Homo sapiens: one gene and its partners. The protein of the gene in region 1 interacts with the protein of each later gene in a pairwise test. Each region holds a gene or a part of one and is shown on either strand. Other genes may lie near its edges.

What was found. Proteins that work in one complex are often made in the same cells at the same time.
Region 2: the proteins of CLVS2 (region 1) and GSTZ1 interact in binary tests that used the Homo sapiens proteins (3 or more experiments, as listed by UniProt).
Region 3: the proteins of CLVS2 (region 1) and S100A7 interact in binary tests that used the Homo sapiens proteins (3 or more experiments, as listed by UniProt).

What each region holds. Positions count from the first base shown.
Region 1 is NC_000006.12:122,999,218-123,006,241, reverse strand, and holds part of CLVS2 (clavesin-2), read right to left. Parts: intron 1-7,024. UniProt on the Homo sapiens protein: Required for normal morphology of late endosomes and/or lysosomes in neurons. Binds phosphatidylinositol 3,5-bisphosphate (PtdIns(3,5)P2).
Region 2 is NC_000014.9:77,324,025-77,331,048, reverse strand, and holds part of GSTZ1 (maleylacetoacetate isomerase), read right to left. Parts: intron 6,511-7,024; exon of another isoform or gene 6,445-6,510; coding exon of another isoform or gene 6,427-6,444; intron 6,180-6,426; coding exon 6,128-6,179; intron 4,212-6,127; coding exon 4,144-4,211; intron 3,578-4,143; coding exon 3,497-3,577; intron 3,138-3,496; coding exon 3,012-3,137; intron 1,927-3,011; coding exon 1,848-1,926; intron 1,295-1,847; coding exon 1,242-1,294; intron 740-1,241; coding exon 690-739; intron 1-689.
Region 3 is NC_000001.11:153,457,639-153,465,426, forward strand, and holds S100A7 (protein S100-A7), read right to left. Parts: upstream 3,014-7,788; 5' UTR 2,970-3,013; intron 1,393-2,969; 5' UTR 1,376-1,392; coding exon 1,235-1,375; intron 333-1,234; coding exon 168-332; 3' UTR 106-167; downstream 1-105.

The DNA.
Region 1 (7,024 bases):
GCTTTATGTTCACTTAAATCTAGGGGAACATTCCCCTTCCTTTTCACCTCACCTAAGTTCTGCCCTCCTCTGGGCCCGCCACCAGCTTTCCCTGCTCTGCAAGATTGTCTTGACCTGCTGGAGACCTCAGCGCCCTCTCTCTCATATTCTGAAATTATAGTGCTTCAGTGTTTGTTCTATGGCCCCAGACATATAAGCTTAGCTTAAAAACTCTTTCACTGTTTGATACCACTTTCTATCTTCAGCACCAAATACTGTTCGCTGCACACTGTGGGTGCACAATAATATATGTTAAAATCAAACTATTTCCCAAGGGCATAGACCATGCTGCTTTATTTTACCTATATCTACATTTACAGTCATCAAAGTGCCATAATGGCATCATTTAAATATAACATTCACTTAAGGCTTCCCTGTCAGCCCAATACAAAACATGCTCCTGGACCAGAAAGAGGACAAGAGCCTTGTCCTGCCACACTGTGGAGGGGTGGCACCCTGCCTGCAATCAGGAGCCCCCTCAATTTTTTAGATCAGAGAAGCTTCTTCTCCTGCCTCTGGCCATGCAATTTTTTTGGTGACTACCTGACCCATGCTTCTTTGCTGGGGTTCTCAGCATCTCCTCCTCTACCATAGCTTTCAGTCAGTGCAAAGATCAACTTAATGACAAATAGGTCATATCCCTCTACTTTTCAACCTTTTCAGCATGACAAGAAAAAACTAGCATCTTGGCATCGCACTGAGCAGCATAACACCAGCAATTTCTCTTTGTCACTAAATCAATCAGCCATTATTAAATTCTTTATTTAGGCTTCCCCCACCCCTCAGTTTTCATTAAGCCACATTTTCTAATGTCTGAAGCACTTCATAGTAGAAGGTGCTAGGGGGAGGGGAAAAAAGGAGAAAAATTACCTTTATTAATGCCTCAGGGTATTATTAGTGGTAAAGCTGATGAAGCCTTCTAGGTGTTTTATATTACTGAGTGGTAATAATAATAATATGTCTATCTGGGTAATAGTTTAAGATTTCCAAAGCAATTTCAAATGCATTATCTTAATCTCAAAACAATTGCAAAATCTCTGAGCTGGATTTGTTCTTATTATTTTACAGATGAGGACAGAGGGTCTCAGAGAAAATTAAACAGTTTGCTTTAAATCACCTTAGGAAAAAAGGGGAACCTAGATTCAAAGCCAAATCTTTCTGATACCACATAGACCAGTGCTCTTTCCCTCTCCATGGTGCCTCCTACTCAGAACAGAGTTTGATGAATAGATAATTGGTTTTTTTTTTTTTTGTTTTTTGTTTTTGTTTTTGTTTTTGTTTTTGTTTTGGAGATGGAGTTTTGCTCTTGTCGCCCAGGCTGGAGTGCAATGGCACGATCTCAGCTGACTGAAACCTCCACCTCCTGGGTTCAAGTGATTCTCTTGCCTCGGCCTCCCAAGTAGCTGGGATTACAGGCGCCCGCCACCAGGCCTGGCTAATTTTTGTAATTTTAGTAGAGACGGGGTTTCACCATGTTGGCCAGGCTGGTATCCAACTCCTGACCTCAGGTGATCTACACGCCTTGGCCTCCCAAAGTGCTGGCATTACAGGCGTGAGCCACCGTGCCTGGCCTGGTCTGCTTTTTCATGGTAGCATAATATATATGTCAGAAAATAGGAGATCAGGAAGTCAATATCCTGGCACTCTCCAGCCTCACCACAATAGGGAGCTTTGGTGGAGGAAAAGCAATAAGACATCCTTAGGACTCAGAATAAGAAATGGCTAAATCTACAATCCCTGGAATAAATATGAACTCTTGAAATTTCATCTGTCTGGCTTGTATTACTGAGCACAGAAGATTAGATGTCTGAGCCTTGCTTTAATTTTACTGCTGTGGGAATGTAGGTGAGTGAGAACAAGAGAATCGTTGGAAATGAAACATCTGCGGGCAAAATGTCTTTCTCTGAAGAAGACGGGTAAAGAAAAAACTTTTGCATCTATTGCCACCAAAAAATAAAACAAAATAAAACAGAATTGTGCTGGGAGAATACAAACACATCAGAAAGCAATTATTTTTATCAGGGCCAAGTACTCTAAGCAAACATCTAGTTAACTAAAGTCTTTGACTTCAGAAAGTTTATTCTTCCATCTTAACGTTCTGTTCCTAATTGCCTGTTTTGTTATATTTAATCGAGATTTTCTAAACCATAGATGGAATTATCTTTAATTATCAGAATTTGATTTTTTTTATACATTTGCCTTTCCCTAGATTTAGGTTGGTAACTGTCTACACACACACACACAAAAAGCGACTAATTCACTTACCAGTTGTATGATCATGAGTGAAGTACTTAATTGCTACAATACACACAGTAGAATTATTTTGAAATGAATAATGAATAAAATGGAACAATAAATGTTGAATTCAGTTAACCAAGCAGGCAATGTCTTTCCTACACAACACTGAGTAGCCCACAGCTGCCCACCTGTCCCCAGCTTCTAGCACTGGTAAACAGTGTCCTCATTAGCTGCATATGACCTCTGATAGTTACTCAGCTTTACATGTTTTTTCTTCCCAGAGAGGTTACATATTGCTTAAAAGTACAAAGTATGTGTCTTTATTTGCCCCCAGTACCTACTAAAATGCTATGTACATAACAAATTCTCAAAGTGTATTTTTTTCAATTAATTTGACCAAAATATTAATCACTCAGTTTGTCATATGGTATCATAACGATCCCACATACAGGAGTATCCTTTCCTTCATGTTACGATAATAGTGTAATAGCCACTTACTATAATAGTGAAATAGATGTACCTGCCCTCAGTAAAGTAAGAGAATTTAACATTTCCCACAGAAAGGAGGAGATGTATTAATTTACTAAGGATAACTTCTTAATATACTAACTATTGGCTCATGTTTTAAAATATCTTTAAACATTTCTTTTGAGGCATCCTTTCAGGACACCGTAGTAACCTCAAGTCCTTTGCTTCTCGACCTTCTTTAAAGTTGATTTTGAAACATGAAAATAGCTTGGCTCAGGCCAGCCTTAGTCAACGTCCTACTGAAGGTTGGCACTTGTAGTTTTTGCTGTTATTTCGGGATTATTTTACTAATTATTGCATAATTGCCCCAGTTTTTGGAGATTGTCCTATTTTTGCAGAGATTCATCACCATATTCCTCCAACATTTCTCAGGACAACTTTTTTTCCTCCCCTATTTGCCATGATATGTACCAAGATTATAGTTTGGAATAAGTTGCAGTTAGCAGAGGATTTGTTAAAAGAGTTTCCCTGAAAGGAAGCAAGATGGAAGCTCTGCTGGGAGAGAAGTCCCATGGAATACATATCTGCCATTTGTGGTTTTGCCCTAACCAGTATCCACCCAAAAGATGGCAAAGCCATGCCTCCAGAATTTTTACGAAAAGGACTCCTAGACTCCAGACTCTGCCAGTAGGTATGACAATGTGAAGCAAAAAGCTGGGAATTATTTAATATGTTAATAAACTGAGAAAAGAATTCTTGAAAAATTAAGCTGAAAAATTAAACTTCTTATTTTTTTGCTTTTTTTGTTGCAGAGTAAAAATATTTCTCCATAATTATCTGGATAATTGCCCTGGACTGTTTTAATCTATTCCTGTTCATTTTATTTTATTTTATTTTATTTTATTTTATTATTTTTAGTACAATTCCAGAGATGAGTAAAGCTTTGTGATTGGCATTAATGCCCATCTGTGTAGTCTATGGCTATGTTTTAAATTGTAAGTTATCATCACCATAACCTTCTATTCTGAACATTGGCCATATTATTTTAGTAAATGCAAGCATAATCATAATTCAAACTGAACCACAAATAGCAACCATTCATACAATGTTTGCTTTTGAATGAAAAAGCCACACAATAGGAGCAAACTGACAAGTTTTTTGGGCAAATTCCAGGATAAGTTAGAGTATCATATCAATGTCTGACCAATCAGTTTTCTGCCCCTTCCAGAGCTTCGCTACTGTAAGTGGTAATCAATGTCCACTATGATAAGCCAAAGACCATGCAAGGTGGCCAGTGCTTTCTGGATTGCCACCATATTAAGAATCATTTTGGTTCTAACTGTGTTTGTTTTCGAATGGCCATTAACTAGATTCCAGATAAATGGTTGTTTGCTATACTAAAGTTCAGAGAATTACTGAGAATTACTGTTTCTAATGACTATTAACCATATTCCAGATAAATGGTTGTTTGCTGTACTAAAGTATAGTGAAGTACATACTTCTAATGAGATCTAGAGAAATAAAATATGACTTGCAGGCTGACAACTTACAGGTGAACTCTGACACTTCCTATCATCATTATGTTTCAGGTGACACAATTTCACTCATGAATATCTCCAACAATTATGTGACAGTGGATTTCAACTTCCTAGATACATGCTTGCATGCTCTAGGACCTAGAATGCCATGTACTTTCTTTCCAAGCTTCCTTTTCTCCAGCAGTGTTAACCTCTGCTAGCTTTACGGCACATTATCCTCACACCTGTTGATAAGATCCTGCGAACCATTTGAAGGTATTTGCTGAGTCCTAAGCAGGTCACTACCATTTAGGAAGGAAAACAATATGCAATACATGGAGGACGAAGGCATCTTTGTGATGCAGTGTAACAGTCAAATAGTTTTTAATTCCATGGCATTTACTTTTGTTGTCAGAAATTATGTAAGGCAATCTAAAAGGAGATAAAATTATATGAATCTTTTCCAAGGTACAGCTCAATAAATGTAACAGGTCATCTGGGCTTGCCCTATTGTTTTTTGGAAGAACCACAGGCCACACTGCAACTCATTTTGACATTTGAGTATTTCCATTTTTTTTTAGATTTGTTAGAAGGTGGGTACACTGTAAATATTAGGATTTTATGTTAGTCTTCTTAATGATGCCATGTCTCTCAAAAAGGCTTTGGAAATCATCCAATTCTTTACAATAACCTAAAAGTAAACTACACTAAATTGCAGCAGAAACAGACACTATTTTATTTATAGTCACTGTCTCACACGGTTTTACTGTTTTCAGTGTCCTGAAGAGCACAGAAAACTGTCCTACAAATTTCATATAGGAGAAAGCGTATATCAAATAAATCTCTACTCAGAATTCTTTTTATACAAATGCATAACTCAATTCAACTCAAATATTTATTGAGCATCTACTCTAGTTCAAGTGCCGTACTAAATATAATAACATGACAGTCTTTTTGTTAGATCAATTCTATTGGGGGTCTTTACGAATTGTTTCAAAATTCATAAAATCTTGTTTTTCCTTTTGTAGTTGGAAAATTATAAATAACCTGTTTTCCAAATAAACTGAGGCATTTTCTTCCGCCTCATTTCTAGAATTTATCTATGTAATCATCTACACTTCTCACACACTGTTTCTTTAAAACAGGCTACTTTTTAAGAAAGTTGTTGAAAGCCAGGTGCTTCACTTAACAACTCAAAGAATGTTGCCAGGATTATTTTCAGACATGCAGTCTTCTGGAGAAATCCAGGTAGCTTTGGATTGGTGGGATCAGGGCCTGGAAGGTGAGAACATCTCACTCACAGAACAGGGGAGGGATGAGGGATAAGAGAAACTAGCACATGGCATTATCCACCTAACAGAGCAATAATAGTAACTTAAACACCTAGGGAAAGAGGCAGACTTCTGTAGGAGTCAAGGAGCCTTCGGGGTAGAGGAAAGGGACTCAGGCTAAGAAGTGTTGGTAACATCCTGGCATTGGCAGAAAGGCAGCTGTCCTTTGAGTTTCAGAGCAGGAGCCAAGGACGTTTTTATGCACATGCTCCAGTGATAAAGGTTTATAGAGGGTGCAAAGGTGACAGATCTGTTTGTCTACTAGTCCCTGTCATTGGGTTATGTAGATTTAGGATAAAAGGAAGGTGGGAAAGAAGAGGGAATTATTATTTTTTTAATATAGGAAGAAATTCAACTGAAATTTTGACTAAGCTCTAAATCACTTGTATACCTTTTCACCTTGAGGTGCGATAATTTCTTGATTATACCTGTTTATTTCCAACCATAGAAATAGAATTCATAATTACAAGTCTAGACATCTTGACAGGAAATTTCTACAGAACACAGCTTCTCATTTTGTTCTAATACACATTTTAGTATTTAAGATTATGTGTAAGTTTAATGAAATGTAATTCTATATACCAATTATTAACTCCGTTTCCATTATAGATTTCTAGGGAAAGAGAATTTGATTACTAGTTGTCTGCCCTTTATATGGAAGCATGAGATAGACAACTAAAACACAGTGTCTCTAATAAATTCAGAATTATCACTTTCTCATATATATGAAAACTATAAGTGACTTTCATCTTAATTAGGTTTACAAATAATTATGAATATTAGTTCACTTATAGAAATTCATGAAAATAGGTCTGATATATATGTATGCCTCTCTGAATGCAATCTGCCCCCATAATGGTATCTCTAACAGACTTCGAGATTTATATAAATATAAAATTTCCAGGTTCCATTTCACTATAGCTCAATTAACAAAGTTCCAATCTGACATACAGAATATTAGTTTTTTCCTTGAATAAAATTTTTCAGTTCTGTTATACACAGTCATTGATTTGCATGATCCTACAATGTACTTTTAGGATGAAAAGAAAACATTTTTAAACAAAAATTGTGGTCAATGAATAAAAAGTTGTAATTCTTTAAAATTTTCAGCTACCTGATAAAAAGTGGAATAACATCTCTATAACTGGCCAAAGTAAGTAACAAAACTCCATTCCCTCTGAATGGCTAACTCTGTATGAGTTTCTTAGCATTATGAATCTTCAGGTAGTAGTTTGTCTTTCTATTTGCCTAAAAAAATTGGAGTGATTGTCAACCTAGAATTACAGGGAAAAAAATCACAATAAAATGAGAGAAAAAATAATTAAAAATATTAATTTACATTCTAAGATACCAAGACTCGGAAGCCTATCTGGAAATCTCTATGATCCATAAGCCCTCTTGGTAACTGTAAATGTCTTGTACGATGGCTCC
Region 2 (7,024 bases), on another chromosome or scaffold:
CTAAGCTAAGGTTTTCAGGGACACAGGGAGACTGCCCTGATGCAGCAGGGGGAGCAGAGAGGCAGGGCTGGATGAGGTCGAGGGAGCTGTCCAGGGAAGGACGATGGGGCAGCCCTTATTCACAGGGGATGGGTAGGTCTTGTGCAGTATCATTTGGCATCTGTTACCTACTGTTCCTATTTCTTTGTGAACCTGCTATGTGTAAGGCCCAGTGCTAGGCATTTATATATACAGACTCTCTTCCCCCATGTTGTAAGCTTCTTGGGGGCAGGGAATGTGCCATACGTTTCCATATCCCTAACGCCTAGCATGATGCCTTCCAGAGAGGTGCTCATTTGTGCCCTACCAAAGGGTTCACGGAAGGATGCAGAGGTAGAGCTCACTACTGCTCACAGACACACCACATTTGAGGACATCAGGCAGGTGCTCTTGGGGGTCCACCAGGTGAGCCACCTCCTCTTAGGAGCTGGGGCTATCTATACAGGTTCATCTGGGCTGTGGTGGGCGTAGTAGGAGCACTGCCCCAATTTCTTCTGCCCTCTTCCAGGCAGAAGTGGCTATGTGGCCTGGCATGGTGGGCTCCTTGGCTGGTTGGCGAAGCGTCTGCATGAGATGCTATCTCGCCAGCTGAGTGGGGCCTGACTGTGGGCAGAGCCACGAGAAGGGAGGGTGGCGGGGCTCTCTCTTACCTTTCAGCATTTGCCACCTGAGGCACCAAGCACAGATCAGCCATGGTCACCTGAAAGAGGTCCCGGTGGGTTCCCATCAGGGTGCATACCCCAGAGTCAGTGGCTGGACTGGGTGTGTCCACTGCGACTCTACTGGGGGTACCAACAATCTGCTTCGGCTCTTTCACCCATCCCACCTCCAATTCTTGTCTGCCCTAGGCCTGCATGAGTCTGTCCCCCGGAGCTGAAGTGCCCTCCCAGGCCATGCTCCAGTTGCCCTGACAACCAACTCTGTGGGTTGAGAGGGCCAGAGAAGATGGATTGCCTTGACTGCGCAGACATCATCTAGCACAATCCCTCAACTGATGCTGGCCCGCCTCATCCTCTCACAGCCAGTCTTCTACCTTGAGTAACTCCCTCTTAAGACGGTTTAGTGGGAGTGAGCTGAGGAGTGCCCCATGGCACAGAGATCCCCCTGCAGACGCCTTCTCAGGAAGCTCTGAGCTTGAGGGAGGTCAGCATGAGGGAGGCAGCCACTGTGGCTGGGCCTGGGGAGGTCTGGGGACAGCTTACCTCGTCTCCTACACAGTATATGCCCGCTGTGCTCTGTAGGATCTGCTCCAGGGCTGTGGGGAGGCCACATAAACATCTTATTCTGGGCGCAGGGAGGGGACACAAAGCTTTCTGGGCCTTGGCCTCCATAGTTATGAAATGGGCGCCCAACTGAGTGACAGACTGGGCATGGCTGCTGGTGAGAATGTGGCAGCCAGGTCTCGAGAGAGCTGTTAGGGATGAGCTGCTGTTTCCTGAGGCTCCGCACAGACAATCACCATTTCCCCACTCGAGTGGACAAGCCCTGCCACTGGCCACGGTGACAGCTCTCACTCTGATGGCTGGCGCTGTGCTGGCCTTGGTTTCCCAGCTGGAGTAGGCAGTGAAGCTGAAGTTGGGCCATCCAGCTATGAAGGGCTGTGGGCTCAGGGACCGAGGTTCCCAGAAGTGCTGGAGCTAAGGTCTGGATGCCCACCCAGCCCATTGCCTCCCCAGTCCTGCCCTCATCCATGCAACTGTCAGGCCCAAAGCAGCCTGGGAGGCTGGTTCAGATACCCAGGCCCCTGTGTGCGAGGGCCATACCTCTAAGAGGCCACTGTGGGGCAGCTCACAGAGGTGAGGACTCACCGTTAAAGCCACAAGTGATGGCGTTCTGGGCCCAGGTCAGCTGCATCTCCTCTCCCACTTGCTTCAGGACAGACAGGTTCTGTGCAGCCCAAAGAAAATCTGTGATTGCGCTGACAGCTGGGTGGGGGCTACCCCTTCGCCAAACCCCCTCAGGGAAGTTCACTTCCCATCTGCCCCTGGCTGGATGTCTATCCCTTCTCCCCCAGGCTCCATGAGCCCCTTCCTTCAACCAAGGGCCCTGAGGTTGGAGGGAGGTAGCCATCCCAGCAGCCACCTTTGCAGGCTGCCCCAGTGGCCTCAAAAAGCCACGTGATTCTGTCAGAGATGTGCAAGAATCCCTATTCATGTGACACAGGACGCGGCCATGGCTGTGGCAGGTGTGCCCACAACTCGAGGCCTGTCTCCCTCACTTCTCCCTTGCATGGTCCCTTGTGAGGAGAGGGAGTGTGAAAGAGGGTGGGGCTGGGATGAGGGAGGTCCACAAGACCGGCTTCCAGAGATTTCCAGCCTGGCTCCATCTTGGCACCCCTGGAGCCATTTTCCCTCTGTTTCCTCATTATAAAATGGAGATGTCTGTCTGCTCCAACATCCTTTGTTAAAGCGACATGCGGGTAGAGGGCATAGGCATGCAGGGATTCTGACTTAGTCCCCACTTTGTTATGACCTACCTGTGGGACTCCTAAGTCACTCCACCTTTCTGGGGCTATTTCCTCATTCAGAGTAGAAGCTGGCACAGATGAACTGTTTTTAATACTTAGTTGTCTGTTTTAACAGTGACACTTAAAAAATAAAATCCTACAAGTATCCCAGTATATGACTGAGATAGCACAGATGAAACGGAAGCTGCTCTGGTTAAAGGCAGGAGGCCTGGACTGGGGCCTGCTCAGTCTCTCCCCTGCCATTCTGGCCCTTTCCCCACCCCAAGCACCTGTACATGCGTCCTTGGAAACTAGAGCTTCTCGGAACGCAGCGGGGGACCCGCTGGGGGGCTGAATTCTGAGATTGCGATCTTCACCCCCTTCTTTCACATGGTCCAGGTCAGAGGCCCTGAGAATCCCCCTCCCTCCCTTGACACCCCCGCCCCCACACTGGGCAGCTCACAGCCAATGTGTGAGTGTAAGAGTGTGTCAGGTGTGCAAGGGTGCAAGTGTACAAGTGCCACACCTGCAGGGGCTGGATGCCACCAGCGATGAGGTCAGAAATCATACGCACGCTGGCCCTCTTCTTTGGGTCCTGAGGCAGAAGTCGCGGAGTGGGACGCATCTCCTCTAGATACTCAATGATGGCCAGCTGTCCAGAGGGGAGCAGTGAGGCAGGGAGAGGGCCCAGGACCCCTGGACCAGAGGGGACAGGGCCAGCAAACTCCTCCTTCTCCTCTTCCAGCACCATCACTACACCTCTTCCCCCCTGCTTCTGCTCAGCTCAAGCCCTATAAGCCTTTTTGGACCTTATCATGCAGAACTTGGTTCTCCATGTGCTTGAATCTTCCCTTATTTTCCTAAATAACCTCGCACCCTCCCCACGAGTCTTGTATTGAGCCTCTCCTATGTGCTAGGCACCTTGACTGTACACAGGCGAGGAAGAGATGTCAGGCGCTCTCATTCAGGGCACTGCTCTCATGAGGGCCCTCCCCCAGGCCCTGCACTCACTGACTGGTGAATGGTGATTCCATCAATCTTCAGGGTTGGCACCTGCTTCATAGGATTCAGTGCCTGGAAGTCCTTAGAAAACTGTGGAGACAAGGCCCTGGTGGGCTGGGTGGCCTGGCCTGAGTTGGCCAGAGGAAAGCCAAGCAAGCAGGAGAACCCCAGGCCTGCCACCCACCCCCATCTCCCTTCCCTGGGAAGGCCCTAAATCCTAGGCCCAGGGTAATCCCTGGGGGATCCATGCAGTCTCCCAAAGCCCAGCTGCTGCTGAGCCATAGGCTTCATCCTAACAGCCTGGCTATGGGCTTTCCCTGCATCTCACACCGTGGCCACCAAGGCAGCTCCTACCCTAGTCAGCCATCCAGAGGGCCCAGTATGGGGTGGGGACCCACTAGCCACCCACCCTCCCAGGGTCAGGCACTGGAGAGCCCAGGCTAGGGTACACAGTCTGGACCTGGGCCCTTCCCAGGCCTCCTGCTACTGCACACCTTGCCACCTTGTCCCACAAGGGAGAGCCAGCAGCCTCCTGCAGTGATAGTCCACAAGACACAGGTTCACTTCTCTGGGGCAGAGCCTCCCCTTTTTCCCCTGCCTGGTGCCTGTTCAAGGCCTCCAATTCCCACATTGTGGTCTGGGCACAGCCTTCTTACCTGTTGGCCCCCATCCTTTATGAGATTGATGGGCACCGTCTCGTAGTCGATGCCTTTCAAGGCCAGAGCTAGGAGAGACCGCACATAGCGGAGTCAAAGAACAGCCTCTCGCCGTACTCTTAAAGGAAAGAGCCCTTCTAAGGTGACATTAAGGCCAAAGAGGGGGAGGCTTCTCTAACACTTCTGGGTGGTCAAGGCTCACCGTGGCACTATCCCCTTCTCTCAGCTTTCCTTGTCACCACGTGCTCCCTACCCCAGATGCACGATGCTCTGCCTCACTCACCCCTGAACTCTTAGAGACCTCAAGATCTGGACCCCCCCAATGGGGCCCTCATGCCCCCTGGATGGTGATAAAGGTGTATGCCCTGGCACTCTGTGGGCTCCTGGAGTTCAGCAAGGCTGTGTTGTGTTTAACTCTGCCCCCCCAGGGCCTTAAACAGTGGTGACCAGTGTCTTGGTTGAAGACATGCAATTACTCCCTCAAGAAGGCAACTAAGGGCCAAGGGAAGGAGCTCAGGTGGCCACACACAGCACACACAGACAGATGGCACTCTTGTTCTGTTGGAGAAGAATCTCTTCCAATCTATTCTCTCTGTTCTCAGGGCTGTTTACTAGAGATTCTAGACAGGCATCAGGCTCTTTGGTGGCCTCAGAGCATTTGCCGTGACTCCAGTCACCAGATTTCCTCTCCATCCCTTTTGATAATTTCCCCTGGCAAGCTGAGGGTAAAAAAAACTTGGGTGGGTCAACACTAGTGGAGAAGACTGCGTGCGTGTGCATGCATGTGTGTATTACACACACTTGGGCATTCAAGTATGGTGATGGCCAATCTCAGGGAAGGGCAAAGGAATGAGGGGAGGAGGACCAGACATGTCATGGTGTGGAGAGCCTGGGCAATACCAGGCTCCTCCTAGTGTTGGTCAGCTCCAGTCTGGGGAGTGACAGTGTTTGGGGCTGGAGGAGACACCTGGAGGAGGGAAGGCCAAAGCACACAGGCCGTACAGACAGCACCTATATTGCTCCGGCTTCTGGCTCAGCCAGGGCAGAGGTACTGGCGCCCAGGGATGGGTTCATCTTCTTGGAGGAAAGTTTCTCCTGGCACCCAGTGCTCTTGCTTACTGATCCCAGCAAATACCAAGTGACTATGGGATGGAGGAGGGGTCACGGAGGATGGCTTTGCCTCCACACTCTGGAGGCAAGCTTCTTGGGTTCAAATTTCATCACAGTCATTTGCTAACTGTGTGGCCCTGGGCAAGTAACTTAATGGGCCTCTGGAGCCAGACTACCTGGTTCAAATTCCAGTTCTGCCTCTTAGTAACTGAAAGATCTTGGGCAAGTTACTGAATGTTGCCTGTTTTTTGTGCCTCAGCTTCCTCCTCTATACAATGGGGACAGTAATAATAGTACCTCCCTCCTAGGGTTGCTGAGGTTTAAATGGAATCAGGCACACAAAAGCACTCAGCACAGAGCTTTTCCTCAGTACAGGCTGCTTTGGTTATGACCTTTGCCAAAGGCTGTGTTAAGCCAAGGGAGGGAAGGGTCAAACAAGGACTAGCCACAGGGCCCTTGTTTCTGCTTTTCTGAAGCCTCCGAGGCTGATGCTGGCCCGTTCTGTTTGCTTTGCCAGTTCAAATAAAATAAGAACTGAGAAGGGCCAGCTGTTCCCCTGCCAGTTACCAGGGGCATGTGGATTTTGTGACCCTGCTTTAAACATGGTTGCCAAGGGGCTTTGGAGAGCAGTGTTGGGAGAAGTGTCAGTCCCAAGGGAAAAAACAACCCCCTTCCTCCCACCCTCACCCTGTGTTTCCGGGGTGGAGATGCCATGCAGGGATGGGGGTTCTAGGAGCCGGGGGATGCTGGTTGCTGGGGGTGAGGTCCTCTCTGACAGAGCAACCCTTCCATCCCAGGCCAGCTTTGCACCCGGGCTTATCCGCCCCAGTCCACCCCACTCCAGCACTCATCCTGGAGGAGGCACATCTCTTACCAATTCGAACTCTCCATGAGCAGGAGCTTCGGAAATAGGAATAGAGGATGGGCTGAGGAGAGAGAGGATGAAGGCGCGTGTTAACCCATGCTGGGTGGGCTCCAGCTTGGGAGGAGTCAACCATTTCTTCCTGTCCTGCCAGGCCTCCTCTCTCAGGCCTGCATCTGTGCAAATCAGGGCAGACTCCAAGCTCTCTGAGAGGCTCATGAGGTCCCTTGGCTCCAAAATTATGCTGGTTTGAGCTCCTGAGGTCCAAGAGGCCCCCAAAGGGGCAGCTAGCCTGAGAGTGCCTTCCATACCTTGCCAGACTCTGTCATGGTATCGTGGTGACCCTCAGCCTCCCAGGAAATGTCCCCTCTGGCACAGCTTCTGAGCAGGGAAAGGAAACCTAAAGGGGTGGATTTCAGGAGCCAATGGGGAAGCTGGGCTACCCAGGCATTGGGGGAACTTTGACTCTGGTCAGAAAGGGCATTTCTGGCCAGGCACAGTGGCTCACGCCTGTAATCCCAGCACTTCGGGAGCCAAGGTGGGTGGATCATTTGAGGTGAGGAGTTTGAGACCAGCCTGGCCAACATGGTGAAACCCTGTCTCTACTGAAAATACAAAAAAAAATCAGCCAGGTGTGGTAGTGGGTGCCTGTAATCTCAGCTACTCAGGAGGTTGAGGTAAGAGAATAGCTTGAACCTGAGAGGTGGAGGTCACAGTGGGCCGAGATCGCACCACTGCACTCCAGAGCGAGACTGCGTCTCAAAAAAAAAAAAAAAAAAAAGGCATTTTTTTCCAACTCGCAGGAAGTTTCTTACGCTCCTGCTGGGGCCAGGTTTGGTGTCCCCCCAACAGAGCGTGGCCTGGTTTTGATGCAGTATTTTGAGTGGTGGAGCGGGCTGGGAGCTGGCA
Region 3 (7,788 bases), on another chromosome or scaffold:
TGACCCACTGGATGGGGGTGGGGGAAATTCTCCAACAAAGTTAACCTGGAATTGGTAGTTTTGACAACGTAGGTCACCAAAGAGAAGAAGAAAATAAGGCAAGTGTCTGGTGGGAGAAGACATTTTATTGTTCCTGGGGTCTCTGGAGGCCCATTGGTGGGGCTGGGTCACTGGCTGCCCCCGGAACAGGGCGCTGCTCCATGGCTCTGCTTGTGGTAGTCTGTGGCTATGTCTCCCAGCAAGGACAGAAACTCAGAAAAATCAATCTTCTTATCCTCATTCTTGTCCTTTTTCTCAAAGACATCGGCGAGGTAATTTGTGCCCTTTTTGTCCTGTGAAGAGAAAAACATACAAAATAGAAAAATTCAATCACAAACAAGTTTTGGGCTGGGAGGGAGAGGAGGAGGCAGAGATACAGACAAGTACCTAGATCTGCACAGGCATGGTGGCGGGGCTGAGAGCACAGGGTGAGTGGGTGAAGTTGGGGTGAGGACGTGAGTGTTATCCCTGGAGTTCTCTAGGGAGTCTTTTTGTCTCACACCTCAGGATGGGAGGCAGGTCCTGTCCCAAGGTGCTCTGTTAAGTGACCTTGGGGAGAGCAGTCCCCTGCCCCAGCCTCACTCTTTCCCGTCCCAGCCTCTAAGGGCACTGCCTACCTTAGTTCTACCCCAGGGCCTCAAAATTGGCCCTCATGCTTTTGTTCTCTTCTTTCTCTGGCCTCCTCTCCTTTCTTCTCCTTTTCCACCAAACTCATCTTCTGGGTATCCTACTCTTGGTCATCTAGACCCTTTGGTACCTAGTAGCCCACAGTTTTTTTTCAGATTTGCTAATGAGTCTTGTTTATTGCAAAGAGGGCTATTGATTTCTACTAACAATGGAACTTCTAGTGCTTTCCCAGTAATCTCAGGGATGTTGATGTGGGGCCTTTGGGAAACAGGACCTGAGCATGTGAGTTTCAGTCTCACAGAGAGAGGGTCAGTGAGTGCTGGGAGGGGACTGTGCACTGCCCTCAAGCTGCACACTTTGCTGACCATCTAATAACCTCCTTTATATCTGTATAACTCTTTCCCATTTTCATACTTTTTTGCCTACCATCCTTAGATTCACATATGATCCAAGTAATAAAGCCCTATTTGCAAATGGGAAATTTTTTAATCAGAGGGTGAGGGTGATCTGTCCAAGGCCACATAGCAAAATGTATCCTCCAACATTGAGAAGCTAGACACCGACTCACACAGGCACTAAGGAAGTTGGGGAAGTTCTCCTTCATCATCGTCAGCAGGCTTGGCTTCTCAATCTTGTCATCACGTCTGGTGTATTTGTGAAACATGTCGATCATGCCTATTATGGACCTCTCAGCTTGAGTGTTGCTCATCTTTGCTTTCAAAAAGCCTTCAGGAAATAAAGACAATCATTTTTTTCCCTTCATTTAAGTTAGGGTCTCTATTTGGGAGTGCTGGAAGGAGGGCTGAGGACAGAGTAAAAACACGGATAAGGTGTAGCAGAACGAACTCAATTTTTTTTTAATGTGATGGGATAAGTTGCTCAAAAATGAGAGGGTAGGACCAAGTCTGAGACCTGGCCCATCCTGGCCAGGGCCAAGAGGAGATGCAGGTGGATGGCGGAAGTCCAGCTGTGGACAGTGCTTCAGAGAGGGAGAAGCAGGGAGAGTCGGGCGCCAGCAACACATGGAAGAACTAAGCTGGGACACCCCAGCCTCAGCCAGCACATGGCAGACCCCACTCTTAAAAGAGCACCAAATCCATCTCCTCCAGCTTCACAGTCGGGGTGACAGTCATGGGGGCAGGACAATGGCCTTGGTGATCTGGTGTCTGACCCTCCTCGGCTGCTTCAGGAACCAGACACCGTGGGCCCCACCTTGACTCAAGTGCAAGCCCTGCATGACACGGTGTGTGCAGGCTCCAGGTGCACATGTGAGCGTGGACGTGAGTGTTAGCAGGAAACACAGTCCTGTCCCGAGCACAGGGGGCCCTTCTTGTATTCCCTTGGGAACGAGAAACAGGAATGGCCTCTGTTACAAGGAACAGAAATAACTCTCTGGTTCTTAAGCTGCTGGACGGGGTGGGAGTGAGGTGGGAGTCACTTCATGTCTGCTCTTGGGAATTATCTGCACCCTCTGAATCACCAAGCCTTGACTGTTTAAATAAAAATGTCTGACTTCCCAAAGCAGATCTTTCAGCCAGTAGTCAGTCTGGGCTGGCCTGCACCCCAAGCCTGAAAAATAGGACAGTGCAGTTCTCACTTCCCACACTTTCCAAAGAACCAGGAAAGGACCTTGGCTAATGCATATGGGTGTCTGACAATAAACCCCCAACACCTCTCAATGCAGGAGAAAGCTCCATGCCGGCAACTGACTAAGAGGAGCCACCCAGAGCTTTTTTGAATCTGAGGCCAAGGCCAGAGGGCAAGCCCTGTGCCCAGAGGGTGACTGACAATTTGCAGGTTGTGGTAGGGAGTGACGGAGCGTTGGTTTCTCAATACCTTACCCAGGTAGGGGCAAGCCATCTGGCCAGGGCTATGCTGTGTCGGGGTCCCAGGCCTGGGGGTTTGGAGAGCCTCCAAAGCATTCACAGGGGACCCCTAGCCCTCCACCCTCTGTGGAGCTGGAGCTGGGGAGGGGATTTAGCAACCGGGACCCCAACAGGAGGATGAATCCAGGGAGGAAGAGGACAGGGAGGGTCCTGTGCTCAGGTCCCACTGGGGACATTTCCACAGGAGTTGCCTCAGGAGATCCCAAAGGAGCAATGGACAGGTCTGGTTCAGCCACCTGGTTATACAGACGTGGGCTTTTGGGGTCAAGTGAAGGTCACACAGCCCAGCTAATGGCAGAGCTGGCCTAGACCCAGGCTTCTGAGTCTTTGTCCACAGCCCTTTCCCTTCCTACAGGCAGCATGGCAGGCCAGGCACTGGGCACTTCTAGAAAACGCAAAGAGGCAGGTGAGACTTACCAGAGCTGGGAAGCGTCACGAGTAGAAGGATGAGTGAGATGTGTGTGTTTGGACAAAGAGCAGTCCTTTATAAGGCTCAGCCTGGCTCTTCCCAGGGGCTGGGAGGCCTGGGGCCACCTCTGTCATCTGTTTCTTGGAGGCTTGCCCCACATCAGGTGGGTGGGACACACCCAGGAGGCTGTGCTCAGGATTTCTGGCCAGTGTCCCAGGTCACCAGGTCCCACCCCACCCCAGAGACCTCACCTGGAGTCTTCTCTGGCTCAACCTTGATTTGAGGGTAAGGCAGCGGTACATGTGTAGTAGCAGGTCAGAAAATGGGAGAAAAGAGCACTGGGCCTCTGGACCCAAAGAGGATGGAGTTTCAGACTCCTGAAGGCAGCATGGTCTTGTTTGTTCCCTCCCCTTATCCTTCCACACATTTGTTATGACAGCCTGTTCTATGACCCCCACCGCTGACTGAGCATTTTAATGTCTAGATATCAAGATACCTGCTGCTCCTGCATCCTCCTCAACCCTCATAGTCCTAAGAGGTGCTTCAATCTCTATTTTAGGAAAGGAGAAGTTGAGATGTTCCCAAGTTTACTCAGCTAGTAAACACAACAAATCATTATATGGACTCAGAAAAGCCTGAATCAAATCCTTACTCTTATCCCCTGTGCTATAGGTCTTGGGTCACATCAGGGTCTGCCCTATGGGAACTCAAAGTCCAGGGAGGGAAGCAGGGTTACTTCATTGCTAACCATTGGTCAGCCCCTCACAGAAGCCCTGGAATTAGGTGGGGGGACTGGGGTCAGGGGCCTCACTATCTAGGTTGAGTGGTGGAGTGACCCCCCCATGGAATGAGCCTGGAGGCAGGGAGTGGGAAAAGTTCTTTCCTGCCCCATGGCACTAACTTCCCAGAAAGTCTTCAGTGTTTTTCCTCCTCCTATGCAAAACAGCCTGTGTAGGAGTTGGGAGTTGTGCCCTTGGCTATAATGTGCCCTAACCTGCTGTGGAAAGGCTGACCCAGGTAGGGGCAAGAGGGTTGGGAAGGCATGGGAATCCCTGGGGCATGGTGAGGAAAGGGAGATGATGAATCACTGAAATGGACTTTTTCTGCTACCCCCTTGCAATGTTCCTTTTAGGGTGCAAGAGAGTTCCAGGTTCATTTAGTGCCAGCCCTTTAAGCACTCTGGGGCTCCACAGAGCTGATGTGATGTCTCCCTAGGTGGGACCTATTTTCTCCACCCATCATCTTTCTTCAACTTCCTTCTCGTCAGTACCTATGTAACCAGGGGGACCTGTTTCTCCCTCTCCCAGTTCCCCATGTGATGGCAATATTACTTTTAACAGCAAAAGATACATACACACACACACAGTGGAATGCTACTCAGCTATAAAAAAAGAATGAAATCACGCTTTTTGCGGCAACATGGATGGAACTGGAGGCTATTATCTTAAGTGAAATTACTCAGAAAGTCAAATACTGTGCAACCTCATGTGTAAGTGGGAGCTACATCATGCATACAGATGGAGGTAGAGAGTAGAATCATAGACACTGGAGACTGTGAAGGGCAGCAGGTGAGGCGGTGGGTGAAGGATGAGACATTTCTTAGTGGGTACAATGCATGCTATTTAGGATGGCTTCATTAAAAGCCCAGACTTCACCATTGTGCCATATATTCATATATATGTGTATGCAGGTTTTTGTGTGGACATAAGTTTTCACTTCTTTTGGGTAAATCCCAAGGAGTGTGATTTCTGGATCCTATGGTAAGAGTATGTTTAGTTTTTTAAGAAAGCACTAAACTGTCTTCCAAAGTGGCTGTACTATTTTGTGTTCCTGCCATCAATGAATGAGAGTTCCTGTTGCTCCACATCCTTCTTCAGCATTTGCTGTTGTCCAGTGTTCCAGATTTTGGGCATTCTCATAAGTGTGTACTGGTATCTCATTGTTGTTTTAATTTGCATTTCCTTGAGGACATATGATGTGGAGCATCTTCTGATATGCTTATTTGTCACCTTCTGTATCTTCTTTGATGAGATATCTGTTAAGGTCTTTGGCCCATTTTCTAATTGTTTGGTTTGTGTTCTTATCGTTGAGTTTTAAGAGTTCTTTGTATGTTTTGGATAACATACAAAGTCTGATATGTCTTTTGTAAACATTTTCTCCCAGTCTGTGGCTTATCTTTTCATTCTCTTGACAATATCTTTCACAAAGAGAAATGTTAAATTTTAAAGAAGTCCAGCTTATGAATTCTTTCTTTCATGGATTGTGCCTTGGTGTTGCCATCTAAAAGTCATCACCAAAACCAAGATGATCAAATTTCCTCTTATGCTACCATCTAGGAGTTTTGTAACATTGTGTTTGCATGTAGGTCTATGATTCATTTTGAGTTATGTATCATCACTGTTTAGAAAAAAGGAACAGAGGAAAAGTAATACAAAAGGAATCAGGGACAACAATATTAATACAAGACAACAAAGAATTCTAAGAAAAGGGATTAAATGAAAAAGAAGAATATTTCTTATTGATTAGTGTGCAAGTCACCAAGATGCGGTAGTCTTATTCTTTTTTTTTCTTTTTCTTTTTTTTGAGACAGAATTTCGCTCTTGTTACCCAGGTTAGAGTGTAGTGGTGTCATCTTGGCTCACTGCAACCTCCTCCTCTTGGGTTCAAACGATTGTCCTGCCTCAGCCTCCAGAGTAGCTGGGATTACAGGTGCACGCCACCACATCCAGCTAATTTTTGTATTTTTAGTAAAGATGGGGTTTCATCATGTTGGCCAGGATGGTCTCGAAGTCCTGACCTCAGGTAATCCACCCTCCTTGGCCTCCCAAAGTGCTGGGATTACAGGTGTGAGCCACCAGGCCCAGCAATAATAGTCCTATCCTTATACACATAAGAACACAATTTTGAATTATATAAAGCAAACACTGAAAGAAATTAATGGAAACTGACAAACTTATATCACTTGGCAGGTTTTGGCAGAGTCTGCCCAGGAACTTCACAAAGCCATCAGATAACAAAACACCAGTAATGGCACAGAGCAGGGCGGGCAGATGCTGCCACAGCCCAGAAGCAGCCCCAGACACAAGTCCCCGTGAATGATGATGGCTGTGTCCAATAAACACTAACCTCCAGAAACAGGTGGCCAGCTGGATTTGGCTTAAAGACCATAATTTGCTGATTCCTGATATAAACTATTTGAAGGACACACTTAAATTTATTTATACACACATACATTCATAAATTCATGCCCAACCATAGAGAATACACATAAATTTCAAACATATTTGAGACATCCAAAAAACTGATCATTTGTTTTTGCTAAAATGAAAATCTCAGCAAATTAGCCTTAATAGGGGCCTTATCTTTTGCACCTGCTCATCAGGTTGAACCCTGTGAGCCCTTCCCCTGTGTCATGTCTGGAACAAACACTCTCCATAAACCCACCCTACTCCATCACACATCCAACCTCTCAGCCACTGCTGATCCCCCAGGAGAGCTCACAACAGGCTGGTCGTGAACAGGAATTTGGCTGGTTGATATCTTCATCTCCTCCATCGTTTTGGGGAGCTCCCCTCTCCCCAGTCTGAGGTAGAAGCAACATACTCCTGGGTCTCTAGAAGATCTCAAGTTGCTGGGGGAAGAGAACAGAAAGCAATTTGTTCTTTTTGCTGTATTTTATCCATTCATTTATGCTGTGAGTGCTGACTCTGTTCTGAGTGTGCAGGTGTCAGGGTGGCAGGGAGATGGATTGAAAGTGGACCGTGCTTTGAGCAATGCTCCGGCCCCAGGAGAGAACTCCAATGAGCCACTGGGTGGTGAGAGAGTGGAGTCGGACAGCGCCCGGAAGCCCCCAGGTCCCCAGGCAGTTCAGTGGCACTTTCTCTGTGAAGCCTTCTCCAGGCAGAGACATCATCCCCATGTCCCTGCGTGTCTCAGTGACAGCCCTGGCCACACATATGCTATGTTTGCTGCCACCCAGCCATGTCTTATATTGTGCCCCCAGCCTCCAGTGCAGAGAACTCCATAAACATTGGCCAAACTAGCAAGTGAGGCAGGTGTCTTCAGAAAGGTTCAGATAAAGTGTGTGAGAATTTGGAAGAGGAGAAATCACTTTTCAGGTGGGGGAACCAGGGGAAGCTTTGTAGGGGCGTCCTTTCAATAGGCCATAGAGCACTTCCAGGAGCCACGGTGAGAGGGACAGGGCAGAGGGAGCCACGGGAATGTTCCGAGACAGCCAGCTGTTCTGTTTGGGGTCCTTCTGGGTGGTGTTGGCCAGCTGCATCTCTGGACTCGTGCAGCAGTTGGGGGAGCGGGACAGAGAGACAGAGAGAGAGTTCTGCAGCATTCACAAGAGGTTATTAGGACTCAGTTCTGCTGTGAGCCATCCACACTGGAGGATGAGAACACCCAGCTGCAGCCCAGAGCCTGTGGTCCCACTGTTAGGTTTTGAAGGGAAGGCAAGGGTTAAAGAAAGACACAGAGAGAGTCGGTGGCTCTATGGCAACACAGGTTTTACATCCAGCACAAGACCTGAGGAGGTGGGGGACAAGCTTAATGCCAGAGCCCCCTGCCGCTTACAGGCTGGCGTAATTTATAGGTCTAGGTGGGGGTCTGGGCAGTATGGCTAGCTCGCCGGGAGGATATTGATAAGATGTTCCTGTGATCAGGCGGTTTGGACCTTTTTCCAGCGGGATGTGATAGGCTGTTTCTTGGACCTTTGCCCCGCAGGATATGATGGGGATGTTCCTTCAGTTGCGCCTTTGCCCAGCAGGGTATGATAAGGATGCTCTTGTGCCTTGCGGTCAGGTGGTTAGGCAGGATGTTTCT